Linked DNA regions of Homo sapiens: region 1 is linked to region 2. The links come from fine-mapping of genetic effects on gene expression. A gene starts in region 2. The other region holds a variant in brackets. All regions are shown on one strand. Distances are between the middles of the regions. Region 1 holds the start of LOC124903979 (a long non-coding RNA gene). Region 2 holds the start of RHOT1 (ras homolog family member T1).

Region 1 (11,352 bases), 100 kb after region 2:
CTGTTCCTTGCCTGCTTCTCTGAACTCACTGTTTCCAGACCTATTGCCTGCTTCCTTCAGAGCCTTTGCACTGGCTATTCTCTGCTTGAAACACTCTTCCCTCTTTTTTTAAAAAGCTGCCTCATGCTTGTCACTTAATCTCAGTTTAAATGTTACCTCCTCAAAGTGGAGCCTTTCCAGATTGTGTAAAGAAACCATCTGGAAACTCAATGTGACAGTCGAGTGTGGTGGTTCACACCTGTAATCCCAGCACTTTGGGAGGCTGAGGTAGGTGGATCACTTGAGGCCAGGAGTTCGAGACCAGCCTGACCAACATGGTGAAACCCTGTCTCTACTAAAAATACAAAAATTAGCTGGGCATGGTGGCGGGTGCCTGTAATCCCAGCCACTCGGGAGGCTGAAGCAGGAGAATCACTTGAACCCAGGCGGCAGAGGTTGCAGTGAGCTGAGATCACACCACCTACTCCAGCCTGGGCGACAAAGCGAGACTCTGTCTCAAAACAAACAAACAAAAACTCTATCTGACATCACCTTGATTGTCAGCATCTCACCACCAGCCATCCTCCCTCCCTCCCTCCCTTTCATCCTATCTCGTTACCTCCCTTCCATCCTCCCTCCCTCCCTCTCTCATTCCCTCCCTCCCTCCCTTCCATCCTCCCTCCCTCTCTCGTTCCCTCTCTCCCTCCCTCCCTCTCTCTTTCCCTCTCCCTCCCTCCCTCCCATCCTCTCTCCCTCCCTTACTCCCTTCCTTCCTCCCTCCCTCCCTTCCATCCTCCCTCCCTCCTTCTCTCGTTCCCTCTCTCCCTCCCTTCCTTCCTTTTCCATGTGTGCTCCTTCATTTGTTGAGGGTCTCCCTCCTGCTTCAATGTAGGCTTTATAAGAGTAGGGCTTTGGGCCGGGCGTGGTGGCTCACGCCTGTAATCCCAGCACTTTGGGAGGCTGAGGTGGGTGGATCACCTAAGGTCAGGAGTTCGAGACAAGCCTGACCAACATGGAGAAACCCCGTCTCTAATAAAAATACAAAATTAGCCAGGCATGGTGGTGCATGCCTGTAATCCCAGCTACTCGGGAGGCTGAGGCAGGAGAATTGCTTGAACCTGGAGGCGGAGGTTATGGTGAGCCGAGATCGTGCCGTTGCGCTCTGGCCTGGGCAATAAGAGCAAAACTCCATCTCAAAAAATAAAAAATGAAAATAAAAAAAAGAGTAGGTCTATGACTGTCTTAATCACCACTTTATATTCAGGGCCTAGAACAATACTTGGTACATAGTCGATGCTCAGTAAATATGTTTTGAATCAATGAGTAAATGGACAAATAAATGAACTTTAAGCCATTTGCCTTAAAACTCTATGAAAGTCAGTGCAGCTTATTGGACTGAGTGAGGAAATAAAGCTAAAGGACAACCAAAATATTTCCTGCAGAGCTGGCTCCAACAACTGAGCTGTGGGGAAGTGCGTCCACAAAATCAATGACACAATGTCAGGGACTTGCACAATTCAGAGCCAGGGGTCACAGGCCTCAGACTTGGGGTCTGAGCCTTTCTTCAAGTCGTCTGGTCAACTAGGCCTCTTGGCCAGGGCTCAGTGATCTCTCTTCTACTGCTACACTTAGTTTATCACAAGGGATTCTGTTCTGCTTGGTCATTCTTTCCTTCAGAAACATGTACTTGGAGCCTCCTTTGTATAAAGTGCTGGGCTGTATGTGGTGAGAAATAGAGATGAAATAGTTATGGGGGAGATGCCTGATTCAAAGATCTTCCAATACAATAGGGAGAGGTAATATGTAAATAAGCATCTACTATAGGTAGAAAAATAAGACCTATAAGAGATAAAATCAAGTGCAGGCCAGGCGCGGTGGCTCACGCCTGTAATCCCTGCACCTTTGGAGGCCGAGGCAGGTGGATCACCTGAGGTCTGGAGTTCAAGACCAGCCTGGCCAACATGGTGAAACCCCATCTCGACAAAAATACAAAAATTAGCCGGGCATGATGGCAGATGCCTGTAATCCCAGCTACTCGGGAGGCTGAGGAGGCAGGAGAATCGCTTGAACCTGGGAGGTGGAGGTTGCAGTGAGTCGAGATCGCGCCATTGCTCTACAGCCTGGGCGAAAGAGCGAGACTCCATCTCAAAAAAAAAAAAAAAAAAAAACAAATGCAATGGGAATTCAAGCAGAGGGGAGATTTTCTGCTGTTGAGGAGCTCCCAGAAAGCTTTTATGGAGGAGGTGGTGTTCACCTTGCCCCATAACAATTCATACATAAAGAATATTTAGTTAGTTTCATTTGGCCTGAAAGAATTCAGGTACCTGTGTGCCTCACGCTTCTGGGGCTGGAGATCAGTAATCACTTCACTGGATAAATTTCCTCCAGTTTGGTATGTAAAAATTGAGACACATACTTTCTATAAAAACTGTCAAAGTACAGCTGAATTTGAAAAAATATGCTGTGTAATAATGTGCTTGGAACAGAATAGGTGTTCATTTCAAGCAGCATGAACGCTGTGCTCACCTGTTATGTGTAAGTGGCAGCTGAAACATGTACCAGATTATAACTCTGCCACCAGCCAGGTGCAGCTGTAGCATCTTACATTGTCATCAGGATTCTTCCACATTTTAGGATCCACGTTTTGGGAGTGAGAGTTACTGTTTGCCAAAAATGACCTCCCAAGCCCAAATGAAGAGGACCTACTAGCGCAGCAGTCAGCGAGAAAGAATTGGGAGATGCCTGTCACTGGCAGAGAGAGCCTTCCTTATGTGGTCAGGACCATGGAAAGCCCAAAGCCAAGGGACCTGGGAAGTCAGCCAAGGACGCTTGCCTGGGTGTCTCCTGGCTGGTTTCTCTGTGCTGTGGAGCCACCTATGTTTAGAACCTCTTGCCGCGCTCCCTCTGCTGAGCTTATATTTATGCTAGATCAAATGTTTAAACTGCTTTTCTCTTTGTGGATCACAAATTTTAGAACAGAAAATGCGGGTTCCGGAGGGTGTGAGAGACAGGGACAACCATATGTATTGCTTCAGTAGATGCTTCAGAGAAAGAAGACACTTAGTTCTCTAGTTGTTCACCCAACCCAATACGGTTTCTGCTCCTTAAGCTACATTCCTATAAAGATTAGCTTTCAGCTGCTACCACCAAGAAACAGTTCAAGTGCTGCTTATGTTGTATTTTAACTAAAGATCTCAAGAACAAAAAGAAATCCCTAGATGCTGACATTCCAAGCAAACTTAGGTCAGGGGTGGAGGCGGGGAATTGACAGATAAAGATTTCGGTGAGCAGGCAGTTCTCACCTTAGGTGAGTTCACAGTGTGCAGGGGTGCTTGGTGGGATGGTATCCATTTCTTTCATCTTTGAGAGATTTAAGGGGTGCTTACAATAAGGGGATACCCAATCTGCCTATCCTGACACATTCAACACGAGTTCTTAAATTCTCAGCTAATGGGTTGGATTCCCATTCATTTTATAGGCAGGATGGCTCTATTTGGATGACCCTTCTCAAAAAGTAAAAACAACAAAGGCAAATAAATCCTTCCGAGAGAGAGTATGAGGCTATGGCAGACAAGGTAAAATGCCTGTCACAGGAGATAAATTATTTTGCTCATTAACAAGTCATTTGTCCTTTGATTTCTCAAAGCCCTAGAGAAACAGGAGCTCAGCTGACAATGACCTGAGGGGACCCCTACAGTGCTTCAAACAGTGGATGGAGGAGGAGATGCCTTCCTGGTTAAGAAATTATCCCTGAGCCCTTGTAGAGGACAGTCCAGCACAGGAAATTCTGGAACTACAAGATGAAAATGTGTGCCAGCATGCTTCTACTTTCAGGGTACAGTCTGAGGCCCTAGGGAGGAGGAGTTCCTCAAGTGCTTTGACCTCTTGCCAGGACAAAGACGGAGAAGTATTTAGAAGCATCTGAATTTGTTAGCTCTTCAGTTTTCCTCCTCCACTCCCTACCCTGCACACAGAGCCTCAGAAGGACAGACCAGCTTCACCCCCTTACCAGCAATTACTGAAGAATCACACCCCACCCACCTCAGGATCACTGATCTCCTTCCTATATGGGAACCCTGACCCTTGGAGAAAAACCGCTGACCTACAAACTCCCCACATTCACCTAGAGAGCACCAGAGCAGAGTTCTGAGTGAGATAAGCAGTCCTTTAGGGGGATCTGTTTTTCCAGCTCTCATTTTTCCCCCCTTATTTCCTTTATCTCTAGAATTCTAAGAGCTGTACTGTTCATTGTTTCTACCCATCATTATTAAGGGAGAGATATGGAAACATTCCCATGGTAACAGTTTCATCTCAAAATATCTGAATGCTATTAGCTGCCTTTCCACTCCAGGGAAAAGATGAGATTTTTTTTTAAAAAAAGAAATCTTTATTCTCAGGATATAGTTGACAGGTCCTCTCCACACTGCAGGGAGGCCTGCCCAGATCAGTGGAGATGGGAAAGGGCTCATAAAGCCAAATTTGTTTCTTAGCTGACTTCACTTCCTGAACATTTCAAAAACTTATTATTACATGGTTCTGACACCGACCCAGAGAATTGCTGGTGGAAGTACTGATGAAAACACCAACATCTCTGGGGGAAGTCATCAACTGGGAGCATATGAGATGGGCCAGCACAGACTTGGCTCAAAGACCCACAGACCACACTGTGTTACTGGAGAGCAACAGGTTTGAACAAACTCAGAGGTATGCGCTGGTTGCCATCAGAAAGCTGGGGAGAGAAAATGGGATAGGAAGCGTTGTACCTCATGTTCATGACACGCTTTATGGCTGGCCAAGGGCTTTTCCTATTGAAATGGGATGATGGAGGAGATAGGACACATTTATCTTAAACATGCATCTTAATTATCTATTGCTGGCGGGGTGTGGTGGCTCACACCTGGAATCCCAGCACTTTGGGAGGCCAAAGCGGGTGGATCACTTGAGCCCAGGAGTTCGAGACCAGCCTGAGCAACATGGTCTCTATCCATCTCTACAAAAAGTTAAAAAATTAGCCGGGTATGGGACTGCACGCCTGTAGTCCCAGCTACTCAGGGGGCTGAGGTGAGAGGATCTCATGAGCTGAGGAAGCAGAGGTTGCAGTGAGTTGAGATTGTGCCACTGCTCTCTAGCCTGA[G/A]TGACACAGCAAGACCCTATCTCAAAAAAATATATTTTATATATATAATATATATAATATTATGATATATATTATATAAAAATTATATATATAATATATAATATATGATATATCATATATGATATATGATATATCATATATCATATATATCATATATCATATATATAGCTGCATGACAAATTATTCCAAAACTTGGCAGCTTAAAATAAACATGTTATCTCACAGTCTCTGTGGGTCAGGAATTTGGGAGCAATTTAGCTGGGTGATTCTGGCTCCAGGTCACTAATTAGATTGTATTCAGACTGTCAACCAGGGCTGCAGTCACCTGAAGGCTTGACTGGGGCTGGGAGATCCCTTTCCAAGATAGCACATTAGCCATTGGCAGGAGGCCTCAGCTCCTCACCACATGGGCCTCTCTTCACAGCGCTGCTTGAATGACATGGCAGTTGGCTGACCCTGGAGCAAGTGACCCAAGACATAGAAAACAGGAGGAAGCTGCACTGTCTTGTTTGACCTAGTCTCAGAGGGCACACATCATTGCTTCTGCCATATTCTGTTCTATAGAAGCATGTCACTAAGTCCAGCACACATGTTTGGGGAGGGGAATCGAGCCACCTCTTGAAAGGAGAAGTATCAAGGACTCTGTGAACATGTTTTAGGACTATGATGTCATGGCAGTTATGAAAACTAATGTGTCAGTGCTGTATGTACTGATATGAAGCAATCTCCAAGATGTATCTTCAGTGACAACAGCATGATGCAGAACGCTAGGTAAGTCTGGATACTATTTGCAGTTTTAAAAAGGGAGGAGGGAGCCAGGCGCGGTGGCTCACGCCTGTAATCCCAGCACTTTGGGAGGCCAAGGCGGGTGGATCACAAGGTCAGGAGATTGAGACCATCCTGACTCACACAGTGAAACCCCGTCTCTACTAAAGAAACACAAAAAATTAGCCAGATGTGGTGGCGGGCACCTGTAGTCCCAGCTACTTGGGAGGCTGAGGCAGGAGAATGGCCTGAACCCGGGAGGTGGAGCTTGCGGTGAGCCAAGATCGCAACACTGCACTCCGGCCTGGGCAACAGAGCGAGACTCTGTCTCAAAAATAAATAAATTAATTAATTAATTAATAAAAAAGGGAGGAGGGATAAATATGCAGTTATGCATAGACTACCTCTCAGAGGACATACAATAAACTGGCCTCAAGGAGGAGGGCTGGGGACAGGTGGGAGAGAGATTTGTTTTCTGTACCTTTTGGATTTTATTTGAGCAAGTATTACTCTTTGATAATAAAATTTAATTTCAAAAATAGATTAAAATAACATAGAAATAAATAACATTGTTGAAAGAACTTAGAATGACCAGTTTGAGATGGAATTTTTTTTTTTTTGAGGTGGGGTTTCACTCTTGCCCAGCAGGGAGTACAGTGACACGATCATAGTTCACTGCAGCCTCGCCCTCTCAGGCTCAAGCACTCCTCCCACCTCAGCCTCCCAAGAAGCTGGGACTACAGGCACATGCCACCACACCTGACGAATTTTAAAAAATTTTTAGAAGAGGTGAGGTCTTGCTAGATTGCCCAGGCTCAAATTCCTGAGTTAAAGCAGTCCTCCTGCCTCAGCCTCCCAAAGTGCTGGGATTACAGGCATAAGCCATTGTGCACCTGGTTGGAATTCACTTTTTAAAGCTATTGGGGCCAGCAGTGAGCTATGATTGTGCCTGGGTGACAGAGCAAGACCCTGTCTTGAGGAAAAGAAAAGAATAAAACTATCAGGGTAGATGATTTTAGGGGATTGGTTTGCTTGCTTTCTTGCTTGTTTTCTTGGAAGCAAGTGTACTTTCTTGGCAGGCATGTTTTGAGACAGGAGGCTATAAGCAAGATGTTGAAGGAAAACAGACCAAGCTCTCTGAAGGAGAGCACTTGGAAGAGAATCTCGTCCAGTTCTCATCCCGTGCATGCCCACCTACCTGGACTTGCACATATCTGCTATATTTTCCCTTCTGTGACTACAGAGAAACTGTCCACAGGCAGCTCCTTCACTTACGCATTAGAGTCTGGCCTCTGTCGTCTGCATCCTCCAGCAATTCCCCCTGCCTTTCTTGGATCTTTGATTTGTGTTCCTCTGGATTTATTAACAAACAAACAAACAAACATTACTTCTCCCATCTGAAAAAAAAAATCTCTTCGTCCGCATTTCTCTGTTCCCTTTATAGCTTGCTTGAAAGAGTTTCCTCAGTGTCTCCTATTCTGTCTCTTTTCAGAACCTGAGATATAGCTCACACTCCATAAAATTCACCTTTTTAGCATGTACAATTCAGTGGTTTTTAGTACAGTCACAAACTTGTGCAACCGTCACCACTATCTCATTTCATCACTCCCGAAAGAAACTCTGTACCCATTAGCAGTCACTCCCCAATCCTCCTTTCTCCGAACCCCTGGTAATCACTAATCTACTTTCTGTCTCTACGGATTTGCCTCTTCTAAATATTTTATATCAATGGAATCATACAATATGTGGATCTTTGTGACTAGCTCCTTTCAGATTGCATAACGTTTTCAAGGTTCATCTGTATGAACCTTGTATCAGCATGTATCAGCATTCCATTCCTTTTCATGGATGAGTAATGTTTCATTGTATGGAAATATCACATTTTGTTTATCGTTCATCAATTTATGGATATTTGGGCCGCACGGTGACTCACGCCTGTAATCCCAGCACTTTGGGAGGCCAAGGCAGGCGGATCACTTGGGGCTGGAGTTCGAGACCAGCCTGGCCAACATGGCAAAACCCTGTCTCTACTAAAAATACAAAATTAGCCAGGTGTGGTGGTGCATGCTTGTGATTCTAGCTACTGGGGAAGCTGAGGCATGAGAATCACTTGGACCCAGGAGGTGGAGGTTGCAGTGAGCCGAGATCACCTGGGCAACAGAACAAGACTCTGTCTCAAAAAAAAAAAAATTATGGATATTTTGGGTTGTTTCCGCCTTTTCATTATTATCAATAATGCTGCTACAAACATTCATATACAAGTTTTTGTATGGGCATATGTTTTCAATTTTCTTTTCTTTTTTTATGACAGGGTTTCACTCTGTTGCCCAGGCTGCAGTACAGTGGCATGATCTCGGCTCACTGCAACCTCTGCCTCCCAGGCTCACACGATCCTTCCAGTTCAGCCTCCCCAGTAACTGGGACCACAGGCACAGGCCACCACACCCAGCTTTTTTATTCTTTCTTTCTTTCTTTCTTTTTTGCAGTTTTGCTCTTGTTACCCAGGCTGGAGTGCAATGGTGCAATCTCGGCTCATCGCAACCTCCACCTCCCAGGTTCAAGCGATTCTCCTGCCTCAGCCTCCCAAGTAGCTGGGATTACAGGCATGTGCCACCATGCCTGGCTAAGTTTTTTTGTATTTTTAGTAGAGACAGGGTTTCTCCATGTTGGTCAGGCTGGTCTTGAACTCCCGACCTCAGGTGATCAGCCCGCCTCAGCCTCCCAAAGTGCCAGGATTACAGGTGTGAACCACTGTGCCCGGCTAGTCTTTCTTTCTTTTCCTTTTTTTTTTTTTTTTTTGTTTTTTTTTTTTTGGCGGAAACACAGTCTTGCCATGTTGCCCAGGCTGATCTCCAACTCCTGGGCTCAAGCGATCCTCCCTCCTTGGTCTCCCAAAGTGCTGGGATTAGGCGTGAGCCACCACACCAGGCCTCGGATTTTCTATACATAAGATCATGTCATCTGCAATTAGAGATAGATTTATTCCTTCCTTTCCAAAGTATATGTCTTTTATTTATTTTTCTTTTTTAATTGCCCGGCCTAGACCCCCCAGTACAATGTTAAGTACAAACGACAAGAGCAGACATCCTTGTTCTGTTCTTGATCTTAGGGGGAAAACATTCAGCCTTTTCAGTAGTAAGTTGTCGGTTAGCTGTGGCTTTTCTCTCTCTCTCTTTTTTTTTTGAGACAGGGTCTTGCTCTGTCATCCAGCCTGGAGTGCAGTGGTGTGATCTTCGTTTACTGCAACCTCCTCCTCCTGGGCTCAAGCAAGCCTCCCAGCCCCCAAGTGTCTGGGATCACAGGCACACACCACCACGCCCGGCTAATTCTGTTTTTTTTTTTTTTTTTCTTTTCGGAGACGAAGTCTTGCTGTGTCATCCAGGCTACAGTACAGTGGTGCAATCTCGGCTCACTGCAACCTCCCCCTCCCGGGTTCAAGCAATTCTCTTGTCTCAGCCTCCCAAATAGCTGGGATTACAGGCACGTGCCACCATGCCCAGCTAATTTTTGTATTTTTAGTAGAGACAGGGTTTTGCTATGTTGGCCAGGCTGGTCTTGAACTCCTGACCTCAAGCGATCCGCCCGCCTCGGCCTCCCAAAGTGCTGGGATTATAGGGGTGAGCCACCGCACGCAGCCTCCGGCTAATGTTTGTATTTTTTAGTAGACAGGGTTTCACCATGTTGCCCAGGCTGAGCTGTGGGTCTTTCATAGATGTCTTTTATCAGATTAAACCAATTCTCTTCCTAGTTTGTTGAGTGTTTTATTTATAATGAAGCAACATTGGATTTTATCAAGTGCTTTTTTTCATTTACTGAAATGATCATTTGTTTTTTGTCCTTTATTCCATTCATACAGTGTGTGTATTACATTGATTTTTGTATGATGAACCAATCTTGCATTTCTGGGAAAATCCCATTTGGTCATGGTATATACTCCTTTTTATATATTGTTAGATTCAGTTTGCTTGTATTTTGTTGAGGATGTTTGCATCTATAGCATAAGGTGTATCATTGTGTAGTTTTCTTTTTTTTTTTTTTTTTTTTTTTGAGACGGAGTCTCGTTCTGTCGCCCAGGCGGGAGTGCTGTGGCGCGATCTCCGCTCACTGCAAGCTCCGCCTTCCGGGTTCACGCCATTCTCCTGCCTCAGCCTCCCAAGTAGCTGGGACTACAGGCGCCCGCCACTGCGCCCGGCTAATTTTTTGTATTTTTAGTAGAGACGGGGTTTCACCGTGTTAGCCAGGATGGTCTCGATCTCCTGACCTCGTGATCCGCCCGCCTCGGCCTCCCAAAGTGCTGGGATTACAGGCGTGAGCCACCGCGCCCGGCCGGTGTAGTTTTCTTGTGATGTCTCTGTCTAGTTTTGTTATCCAAGTAACACTTTTCTTTTTTTTTCTGAGATGGAGTCTCACTCTATCTCCCAGGCTGGAGTGCAGTGGCGTGATCTTGGCTCACTGCAAGCTCCACCTCCCTGGTTCACACCATTCTCCTGCCTCAGCCTCCTGAGTAGCTGGGACTACAGGCGCCTGCCACCACACCCGGCTAATTTTTCGTATTTTTAGTAGAGACAGCGTTTCACTGTGTTAGCCAGGATGGTCTCCATCTCCTGACCTCGTGATCCACCTGCCTCGGCCTCCCAAGATGCTGGGATTACAGGTGTGAGCCACCGTGCCCGGCCCCAAGTAACACTTTTCATGGTAATACTGGCCTCACAGAATGAGTTGGGAAGTGTTCTCCCCTTTTCTATTTTTTGGAAGAATTTTTGAAGAGATTGATGTTCCTATTCTGTCTTGAGCCACTCCTCCCAGCTTGTTACCTCCCCTACCATACCGAAACTGCTCTTGTAAAGGTCTCCAATGTCCTCCACATTGCCAAATTCAACAATCAGTTCTCAGCCATCGTCTTACCACTCAGCAAGAGCATCTGATCTCAGCCATCGTCTTACCCTCAGCAACAGCATCTGATCTCAGCCATTATCTTACCCTCAGCAACAGCATCTGACACATTTCCTTTCTCCTCGGAACACTGTCTGCTTCTGGCCTCCACAATCTCCTGGTTTTCTTTCTGCCTCACTGGCCACTATTTTCCGGGCTTCTTTGCTGGATTGTCTTCCTCTATCAGATATCTTAATGGTGAAGAGACACAGGGCTGAGTCCTTGACACCTTTTTTCTGTCTTTTCTCAGATTTTTTGTAATTTTATTTCTCTCCTAAATTTAAACACCAACTATATGCTGAAGCCTCCCAAATTTAGAGCCCAAATATGGTCTCTCTCTTTATCTTTAGATTTATATATCCTCTGCCTATTAGACACCTTACCTTGGATGCTGAATGTATATCTCAAACTTAACATGTCCAAAATTAAACTTTTGATCTATTCCACCAAAATCTGCTATGCCCACCATCTTCCCCATCATTATTAACCACAACTTTAGCTTTTCAGTTGATCAGTCCAAAAATATCCGAGTCATCCTTATT
Region 2 (10,939 bases):
AGGCCATTTGGAGGTAGGCTTCTCAATATCAATTATGTCTTAATTGAGGGTATTTGTTTTCCAATTTATCTGAAAGGAGCTCAAGAAAATTAAAAAGAAGACTGGATGCAACCTCATTAACAGATGAAGCTCTTGTCTGGAAATATACTTTCAACACTGACAGTTATAATCAAATGCCTTTTAATAAGTAATTGTGCTGAGTGATGTACCTTCAAGCGAAATCAAGCAAACAGGCAGAATCCATGTCCTCTAGAGATGGACCCTTGTGACTGACTATGCCAAAGACATGGATGTTTGAACAATGAACCAATAACGAGTGTGTTGAAAGGCAAGATAAAATACAGCATTTACCTGGTATCAAAGCATTGGACTTTTCCACTCCACCAGAGTGGGCCTGGCAGGAAAAGGAGGAAGGCATCCTGGAAGGAATGGGACACAAAAGTGAAGAAAACACAGATGATGGATGCTGCTTTGGGTTTAACTTGAAAGACCAAAGATAGGTGGGTCTGAAGCATGGGACTGATGCCAAGCCAAGTCTTATTTGGTTTCCTGCCCAGGACTCACCAATCAGAGATTGGTGAGAGACTCTGTCTAACTCACCAATCAGAGATTGGTGAGAGACTCTGTCTAACTCACCAATCAGAGATGGGGCCCCTGTTCCCACCCAATGTCAGTCATTTAACACACACTTTATCTTCTACCCAGCAGGCCTGCCCATTTGCCCTGGGTGTTCTGCTGTTCTGGAACTCAGAGAGAGGCTGTGTCACTAGGCATAAAGATGGATCCTCTTATCTCCTGGCGAAAGCACTTTGCCCTGACCTCCTCCCCTGCACAGTTGAGGAGGCATGAAGCCTGTATTGTGAGGGTAGAGCTCCTTCCTGGCATTCTAGAGGAAAATTCCATCAGTGCCTTCTAGATACCAATCTGTCCTCTTGGCCTTATCCAATCTATTTAATACATTGTATTCAATCTGTAATATCCCAACAGTAAATTCACTGCCAACAACTCTGTTCTTTGGCTTATGATTTGCTGCAGTATGTGTCATCATGAAGCTCTGTCCTCAAGCTCAGAGAGGTGTACAGAAGCCACTTCCCTTATAATTTATTTTATTTGATGTGTGGGTGGGAAGGGGGAGACTAAACCTCCTTATTCGCATCCTCCCTGGAATATTTCTTCATTATCTGCCAATGAACAAGGAGTGTGTCTTTCCTATCTCCCTCTTCCAACATTTATATATCACTGACCACACGCCAGGCACAATTCTAAGTGTTTTCCTAATATATATATATATATATATATATATATATATATATATATATATACACGTATACATGTATACGTGTATATATGTATACATGTATATACATATACACGTATATGTATATGTATATACATAAAAATATATGTATATACATAAAATATATATATATACATATATATGTATTTTTTTTTGAGACAAGTTCTTGCTCTGTCACCCAGTCTGGAGTGTAGTGGCACAATCACAGCTCACTGCAGCTTTGACCTCCTAGGCTCAAGTGATCGCCCACCTCAGCCTCCCAGGTAGCTGGGACTATAGGTGCATGCCATTATGCCCGGCTAATGAATCTTTTTTTTTTTTTTTTTGAGATGGAGTATTTCTGTGTTGCCCAGGCTGGAGTGCAGTGGCATGATCTCAGCTCACTGCAACCTCCACCTCCCAGGTTGAAGTGATTCTCGTGCCTCAGCCTCCCAAGTAGCTGGGATTACAGGTGCCCACCACCATGCCTGGCTAATTTTTGTATTTTTAGTAGAGATAGGGTTTCACCATGTTGGTCAGGGTGGTCTCGAACTCCTGACCTCAGGGATCCACCCACCTCATCCTCCCAAGTGCTGGGATTACAGGCGTGAGCCACTGTGCCCAGCCTTTCCTATTATATTAACTAATTTAATTTTCATAACAATCTCATGAGGTATGTCCTATTGTTATTCCCATTTGGCAGATGAGGCAAAGAGAAGTTAAATAATCTGTCCAGTGATGCACAGCTAGTAATTGGCACAACTGATGTTCAGATCTAGCAGGCAGACTCCAGCATCCTTAGTCTTTGTTGTTGTTGTTGTTTAAGAGACGGGGTCTTACTCTGTGGCCCAGACTGGAGTGCAGTGGTACAATCACAGCTCACTGCAGCCTCAACCTCCTAGGCTCAAGCAATCTTCCCACGTAGCTGGGACTACAGGTGTGCACCACCACGTCCAATTAATTCTTTAATTTTTTTTGTTTTCTTTTTTTTGGAGACAGAGTCTCGCTTAATCCCCCAGGCTGGAGTGCAGTGATGCGATCTCGGCTCACTGAAACCTCCGCCTCCCGCGTTCAAGAGATTCTCATGCTTCAGCCTCACAAATAGCTGGGATTACAGGCGCCTGCCACCACACCCGGCTAAGTTTTGTATTTTTAGTGAAGACAGGATTTTGCCATGTTGGCCAGGCTGGTCTCAAACTCCTGGCCTCAGGTGATCTGCCCACCTTGGCCTCCCAAAGTGTTGGGATTACAGGCGTGAGCCACGGCGGCTTAATTCTTTAAAATTTTTTGTAGAGACAGGGTCTCCTTGTGTTATTCAGGCAGGTCTCGAACTCCTGGGCTCAAGCAATCCTCTCATCCCCAGCCAAGCTTCCCTGCTTTAACCAGCGACCTGTGCTGTCTCCAGGAGAACATCAGAGTGACACCTAGTGGACGTTTGTTAACATCATAAGGAGGGAATAAAGTTCAAGGCAAGTCAGGGAGCCAGACTGGCAGAAGTATAGATGATCAGGAGATGGCTGCGGACTGTAGAAAGAAACTTACATTGCAGGGGAGGCAAACCCTGGCATACCAGACTCCCTCTCCCCAACTTTAGCAAGTGCTGGCCTCAGTTTGTACCAAACCATATCCATTGCTCACTGAAAGTGCTTGATATTGCCTCTTTTCTGCAGCTCTTGAGTTAGGTTTTTTTTTTTTAGATGGAGTCTCACTCTGTCACCCAGGCTCGAGTGCAGTGGTGCGATCTCAGCTCACTACAACCTCCACCTCCTGGGTTCAAGCGATTCTCCTGCCTCAGCCTCCCGAATAGCTGGGATTACAGGCATGCACCACCACGCCCAGCTAACTTTTGTATTTTTAGTAGAGACAGGGTTTCACCATGTTGGCCAGGCTGGTCTCAAACTCCTGAGCTCAAGTGATCCACCCGCCTCGGCCTCCCAAGGTGCTAGGATTACAGGTGTGAGCTATTGTGCCCGGCCTAGTCAGATTTTTATTTTTTTTTATTTAGAGACAGACTCTGGCTCTGTCACCCAGACTTGAGTGCAATGGTGCCATCATAGCTCACTGCAGCCTCCAACTCCTGGTCTCCAGTGATCCTCCCACCTCAGCCTCCCAACTGGGACTACAGGTGCATGCCACCACGCCCAGCTAATTTGTTTATTTTTTGTAGAGATGGGGTTTCAATGTTTCTCAGGCTGGTCTTGCACTCCTGGCCTCAAGAGATCCTCCCACCGCAGCTACCCCAAGCTTTGGGATTATAGGTGTTGAACCACCATACCTGGCTGGATATGGATTTTTAAGTAAGTTTTATTTACAAAGGAGTTCTTTGCAATATTGTATCTGTGATGTCCCTCTAAATAAATGCTTTTTCCAAGCCCCTGCCTACCAGACATTACCCAGTACACATCTACAACCCCACGAAGACCTTGTTACTGCTCACCCTCCTGGAGAAGCCCCAATGAGTCAACATTGTCATTAACTGGCAACGCTGATTGAGAGCTCTTAGGGATCTAGATTCTTCACAAAGCTGCATGGTGCAAGCAGTGCCCTAAAGAATTTGCCCCTCTGTAAAAGGCTTTTGTCCTCTGTGCTCTGATATTTGTGTAACTTGTTTTTTGTTTGTTTGTTTTTTAGGAAAAAGATTTACAATTCATTACATTATTCACATAAAATACATTATTTTATGAGCTCCTCCAAACAATTTCATAAGAGATCACAGCCTTCACTTGGTAGAGAGGAAACTGAGGCACAACTAGGTGACATGAGTTGCCTAGAGTCATGCACTAGGAATGGCAGAGCAAAGCTCAGCCTCAGCCATGCCGTCTGTGCCAGGTCATTGCGTCTCTGTGGGCCTTGCTTTTTTTTTTTTATCTACAGAGTAACGGGATTGGAATAGGAGCTCTGTCAGGGTTCTTCCAACTCAAACATTTTGTAACACTAAAATTCTGAGGGCTACTTTTCCCTGAAAGATCAGGTAACCAAGCCTCCTGAATTTCACATTTCCACTCATTGAGGTGTGGGGGGAGGAGGGAGATGAAAGCACCTTATTTACATCTACCCAGGAACGCGACTTCATTATCTCTCAGTGAACAAGGAGTATGTCTTTCCCATCTCCCTCTTTTTCCTAACACGGACAGGGATAGAGTTGTTTTTGAAAGGGCTTTCTCCCCTGTGCTCCTTATGGACATCAAATAACTAAGATGGTGAAATTCTGCAGTAAACACAACAACATATTTGCCTCAAAACCTGTGGATTAGGCTGGGCGCGGTGGCTCACGCCTGTAATCCCAGCACTTTGGGAGGCCAAGGCAGGCGGATCACGACGTCAGGAGATCGAGACCATCCTGGCTAACACGGTGAAACCCCGTCTCCACTAAAAATACAAAAAAAAAAAAAAAAAAATTAGCCGGGCGTGGTGGCGGACGCCTGTAGTCCCAGCTACTCGGGAGGCTGAGGCAGGAGAATGGCGTGAACCCAGGAGGCGGAGCTTGCAGTGAGCCGAGATTGCGCCACTGCACTCCAGCCTGGGCGACAGAGCGAGACTCCGTCTCAAAACAAAACCAAAACAAAACAAAAAATCTGTGGATTACAACTTTTTAGTGACTTTTTAATATAATAATGATAGCTGAGATCAGTAGAGCACACGCTCTGAGTCTGGCACTGTACCAAATGCTTGACAAGTATTATAGTATTTATTACTCACAACCATCTCAAGAGGAAGGTATTATCATCATTATTTCCATGCTACAGAAGAAGGAACAGTGGCTGAGGGAAGTAAAAATAAAAGCACTTAGTCGAGATCACAGAGCTATTATGTGGAGCCTAGATTCAAACCCAGGAAATTTGCCAGCAACTCTTAACTGCTGCAAGAGACCACATGACTTCTCCTAGGAGAAAGGGAAGTTGGTATTACGCACATTTCATTCCCTTTAAGTGTTTATTGTGTAATATTTAAGATAGAAAAAATGTACATTATGCACAGATAGTGCTTCCTCATTAATTTATGTATTTTATATTTCCCACTGTGTGCCAAGTATTAGGGATGTGATATATATTCGCACGCGTATGTATATATATATATTTGCCATTGTGTACCAAACATTAAGCATGTAACAACAAATTCCTCCAGATGGAGAGGGTCACGAGAAAATTAAGGCAATGTTAGAAAAATCATCTAGAGTTTATTATCGAGTGCCACCTCCGTGTCTAGCATTACGCTGGGTAAGCCTGAGTAAAGAAGAGTGTCCGAAAACCCTGCCATAAAATAAACTACATAGACAGAAAAAAAGTCACTTAGTTTGGTTATAAAGAAAGGAGTCTTGTTCACACAGCGTAAAAACGAATCTTATAATCGTATTTTATAAGCATCAGAGGCAAAAGCAACTAGGGTGACGGGCTTTGGGGAGTGGAAAGCGCCGGATCCTGGGAGCCAGTCGCCCTACTCGATCAAGCATTTTCTGACGGCCCTATCCAATAACGTGGGGACGCAGCTGAAAACCATGCAAGCTGATCGCTGCCCTCCCGGAGTTTATGGTCTGGTGAGAAGATCCCTGCTCTGAGTCACTGCCAAGCTCTAGCTATGTGACTTTGAACAGGGAATTTCTGTCCCTATCTATAAAATAAACGGGGTTAAACCAGGGAATCCGCCATTCAAATTCCTGGCCCAAGTGTCTCCGGGGTCGCGGTGCCCAAAGGAGGGTGGGCGAGGCTCCCTGGGCCTGCGCTGCGGCGGCCTGACAGCGGGAGCGCTGTTCCGGCGCAGAGCGCGTTCGCGTTCCGAAAGCGCGTGTCCCTCGCCGCGTGCCGTCGTCCCCGCCGCCGCCGCCGCCGCCGCCGCCGCCGCCGCCGCCGCCGCCGCCGCCACAGCCCGCTGGGCCGGAGGAGGCGGAGCTGGCGCTGTCCCGGCTCTCTTGCGGGGAAGCAACTGAGGGGGCGGCGCGGCGGGCCCCGGCGGCCGAAGAGGCTGGCAGGTGGCGCCGTGGGGTGGGTGCTCCTGGTGAGAGGAGTCCACTCCGTGCGTGCGGGCGGAGGCCGGCCCCCGAGAGCCGCCGACATGAAGAAAGACGTGCGGATCCTGCTGGTGGGAGAACGTGAGTCCGCACCCTCTGGCCGGCCCCTGAGTCCCTGCCCTCCCTGCCCCTGCAGCCCCTGTCGCCCCTGTCGCCCCTGCAGCCCCAACCTTTGCAGCCCCGGCCCTTCTCGCGCCTCACAGCTCCGCTCGCCTTTCTCCGCGTTCCTAGGCCTTCCAGCCCCTTCACTCTTCTCTTTTGGCTGGCCGCCGGCGGCCCTCACCCTGTCACCTCACCTGGGCCCTCCAGAGATCTCCTTTCCCTGTTCCCCAGCCGTCCTCCCAAGCCATGTCCCTATTAGCCCTAACCGCCCGACCTCATCCCTCCGAAGCTTCTCTCCTCCTTTTCCTCTTCGAACCCTGTCCTTCTGGGCCTCACAGTTTCCCAGGCCGCCTCCTTTCAGACCTTCTTGTCTTCTGGAGATTCCCTTATCACTGCCAGGCAGGTGCTGGAATAAGCAGACTGACCAATAGGGATTGCGTGAACCGGCTCCCGGGGAAGCTGGGGGAGGGGTGCAGAACTATTCGACTTGTGGGCAAGGTCAGGTTTCTGCATTTTTTTGGCACTCGCAGTCTTCACTCTCTCTATGTATTGACATTAAGATATGAGTAGTGGAAAGGGCCGGATCCTTTTTAGCAGTACTTGTACTTTGCATTGGACTAACTCCTCGTACTCGAGATATTTCATCAAAAATTTTTACTCAACTTCGAGTTATGCAAGCGCTCAATGAATTAGAATTATCTGGGGAGGGTCCAATTGTTGTTACCCTAAAGCGTAATCTTTGCCCTCTTTTTAAGCATTATTTATTCCATAGTTACTTCGTAGTTAACTTATTAATAACCACAGGCACACAGACATTTGATATCTCCCCCCACCCAGAAATTTCATACATTTCACCTTTTGAAAATATAATAAAGGAGAGTTCCCTCTGTTCACTGACATGAGGACGCAACAGCGGGGACTTCTTGATTTCACTCTGCAAGTTATGTAACTCAGTTGCTAGGACTAAAATAAGAAAGTGGGCCAGGGATAACTGGATTGTTTGTTTTAAAGAGTTAATACATTCGTTAATAGTCTGCCATTGCTGTTTCGAAGCATTCTGTTTTAAACCATTATTTCATTCTTGGTAACCCCTCAGGGTCACCGTGATGGAATCCCAAGGAAGAAAGTTAACACGTTTTTACCCTCTTCTGTAGTGTTCTTTGAGTTCATTGAAATTTCATCCACCTGCTGTTTGGAGAAATCTTCCTTTAGAATTAGAATTTAGGAGTAAGCTTAGCCAGCCATAGTTTACTTTTTGATTTGCAGTTGTAAATTTTTATTTTTATTTATAACTATATCTTAATCTGTATTTTTCATGGACTTCCTTGACAAGGTTCAGGAAGGTGTTATTTAACATATAATTCATGCTTATGCTTTTGGAGCAAGGTAGGGAAAGTGAGTAGACGACTTGCTTAAAAAACTGATCCTTAAATATATGATGAAATAGTTTGTTGTTGTTGTTGTTTTGAGACAGAGTCTCGCTCTGTCACCGAGGCTGGAGTGCAGTGCCTGGGATTACAGGCACTGTGGCTCATGCCTGTAATCCCAGCACTTTGGGAGGCCAAGGCAGGCAGATCACTTGAGGTCAGGAGTTCGAGACGAGCCTGGCCAACATGGTGAAACCCCGTCTCTACTAAAAATACGAAAATTAGCCGGGTGTGGTGGCACACACCTGTAGTCCCAGCTACTCTGGAGGCTGAAGCAGGAGAATCACTTGAACCCTGGAGGAGGAGGTTGCAGTGAGCTGAGACATGCCAGCCTGGGCAGCAGAGCAAGACTCTGTCTGAAAAAAAACCTTTAATAATGCTCCCACACAGCTGGGTGAGGTGGCTTATACCTGTATTCCAAGCACTCTGGGAGGCTGAGGCAGGAGGATCACTTGAGGCCAAGGAGTTTGAGACCAACCTGGGCAATGTAGTGAGATCCTGTCTCTACAAAAAATTTAAATATTAATGGCTGGGCACAGTGGCTCACTCCTGTAATCCCAGCACTTTGGGAGGCTGAGGCAGGAGGATTGCTTGAACGCAGGAGTTTGAGACCAGCCTGGGCAACATAGTGAGACCCCGCCTCAAAAAAAAAAAACCACAACACTATTAGCTAGGCATGGTGGTGTGCACCTGTAGTCCTAGCTACTGGGGAGGCTGAGATGAGAGAATTGCTTGAACCCAGAAAATCGAGGTTGCAGTGAGCCATGATCACACCACTGCACTTCAGCCCAGGTGACAGAGCAAGACTGTCTCTTAAAGAAAAAATTAATTTTTAATGGCTGGGCACAGTAGCTCATGCCTGTAACCCCAACACTTTGGGAGGCCAAAGTGGGCAGATCACCTGAGGTCAGGAGTTTGAGACCAGGAAACTGACCAACATGACGAAACCCAGTCTCTACTAACAATACAATAATTAGTCAGCTGTGGCAGCACGCACCTGTAATCCCAGCTACTCAGGAGGCTAAGGCAGGAGAATGGCTTTCACCCAGGAGATGGAGGTCGCAGTGAGCTGAGATCACACCACTGCATTCCAACCTGGGGGACAGAGTGAGACTCTGTCTCAAAAAATATATATATATATTGATAATAGTAAACAGGATAGTTTTCATTTTAATGGAGTCTTCTTTTTAAATTAAATTGAGATATATTTGTTTTCTACTAGTTAAGTTCCTTAAGAAAATGGAACTGTTATCTTCTTTTAAAATGAATCTGGCAGATCTTTAACTGGTTTGTCTAACTCTGATTATCATGGCAACCTCTGCCAAACTACTTCAAAATTCCACTGGCTTTGGCCTTGACTTTTGCAATATCTCCCTTAACCAGTCTTTCTGCTCCTGCTTTCCTCCATTTTCCGTGGAGCAGGCAGATTCATTTTTATTTTTTTATTTTTAATTTTTTTACCCTGAAGTATAGATTCAAGCTGTCCTGAATATATACAGATTCATATTTAGAAAATATCTCAGATTCTGCTATGCACCTTAAAAATCATCTAATGAGCCAGGTGTGGTGGCTCATGCCTATTATCTCAGCACTTTGGGAGGCCGAGGCAGGTGGATCACTTGAGGTCAGGAGTTCGAGACCAGCCTGGGCAACATGACGAACCCTCATCTCTACAAAAAATACAAAAAATTAGCTGGGTGAAGTGGCGTGCACCTGCAGTTCCAGCTACTTGAGAGGCTGAGGTGGGAGAATCACCTGAGCCCAGGAGTTCGGGGCTGCTGTGGGTCATGACTGCACCCCTGCACTCCAGCCTGGTTGACAGGGTGAGAATCTGTCTCAGAAAATAGATGTATATCATCCAGTGATTTCTACTTTCACTTAGAATAAAGTCCAAACTTTTTAATGCAGTCCTGTAAGGCCCTCCACAATCTAGCCCTTACTTCCCTTTTATGCTACTCTCTCCTTCATTGCTCTCTCTATAAGAAGGCTCTGACCTGGGCATTATCCCCATAACCATGTATATTTGTACATTTTTTGTCCTGTCTCTTGGGCTAGAAAAGAATCATCATGAAGGCAGGGGATTTGTCTTCCTTCTTGCTGTATCCCCAGTGGCTAGAACAGACCTGGCACAAAAGAGGCACTCAGGTATTTCTTAAAAGAATGAATGAGTTCAAGCTAGTTCAGTTTGTTTAGACTTTCCTTGTTTTCCAAACCACTCCTCTTTGTCATAAAAATTTGATCATTTTTCTGTATTATTATTATTATTATTTTTATTTTATTTTTTTTGAGATGGAGTCTCGCTTTGTCGCCCAGGCTGGAGTGCAGTGGCGCGATCTCGGCTCACTGCAAGCTCCACCTCCCAGGTTCAGGCCAGTCTCCTGCCTCAGTCTCCCGAGTAGCTGGGACTACAGGTGCCCACCACCACGCCCGGCTAATTTTTTTTTTTTTTTTTTTGTATTTTTAGTAGAGATGGGGTTTCACCATGTTAGGCAGGATGGTCTCGATCTCCTGACTTCATGATCTGCCTTCCTCGGCCTCCCAAAGTGCTGGGATTACAGGAGTGAGCCACCGCGCCCGGCCTATTATTATTTTTTTGAGACAGGGTCTTGCTCTGTCGCCCAGGCTGGAGTACAGTGGTGCCATCTTGGCTCACTGTAACCTCAGCCTCCCAAGTAGCTGGGATGACAGGCATGCACCACCATGTCTGGCTAATTTTTGTAAATTTTTTTTTTTTTTTTTTTTTTTTTTAGTAGAGAGGGTTTCACTGTGTTGGCCAGGCTGGTCTGGAACTGCTGACCTCAAGTGATCCACCCACCTCGGCCTCCCAAATACTGGGATTATAGGTGTGAACCACCATGCCTGGCCTGCTCTTTTTTTATTTTTTTGAGGCAGAGTCTCACCCTGTCACCCAGGCTGCAGTGCAGTGGCACAATCTCGGCTCGTTACAGCATCAGCCTCTCAGGTTCAAGCGATTCTCCTGCCTCAGCCTCCCAAGTAACTGGGATTACAGGCGCATACCACCACGCCTGGCTAATTTTTGTATTTTTAGTAGAGACAGGGTTTCACCATGTTGGCCAGGCTGGTTTTGAACTCCTGACCTCAAATGATCCACCCACCTTGGCCTCCTGA

The links. PIP is the estimated chance that this variant, and not a neighbour inherited with it, causes the effect.
Region 1: its variant is fine-mapped to the expression of RHOT1 in whole blood (INTERVAL, PIP above 0.99).

The regions. Positions count from the first base shown.
Region 1 is chr17:32,238,170-32,249,521 of GRCh38, forward strand. LOC124903979 (a long non-coding RNA gene) reads left to right here and starts at 5,315. Exons shown (of 2, transcript XR_007065709.1): 1 at 5,315-5,884. RefSeq lists a silencer at 2,621-2,915. The variant G/A (reference allele first, on the strand shown) is at 5,114.
Region 2 is chr17:32,136,368-32,147,306 of GRCh38, forward strand. RHOT1 (ras homolog family member T1) reads left to right here and starts at 6,135. Exons shown (of 20, transcript NM_001033566.3): 1 at 6,135-6,362. The coding sequence starts at 6,326. It overlaps LOC105371730 (a long non-coding RNA gene), which reads right to left and starts at 6,768. Exons shown (of 2, transcript NR_136413.1): 1 at 6,658-6,768; 2 at 4,859-6,346. RefSeq lists an enhancer at 5,466-5,635 and silencers at 6,096-6,325, 6,356-6,415.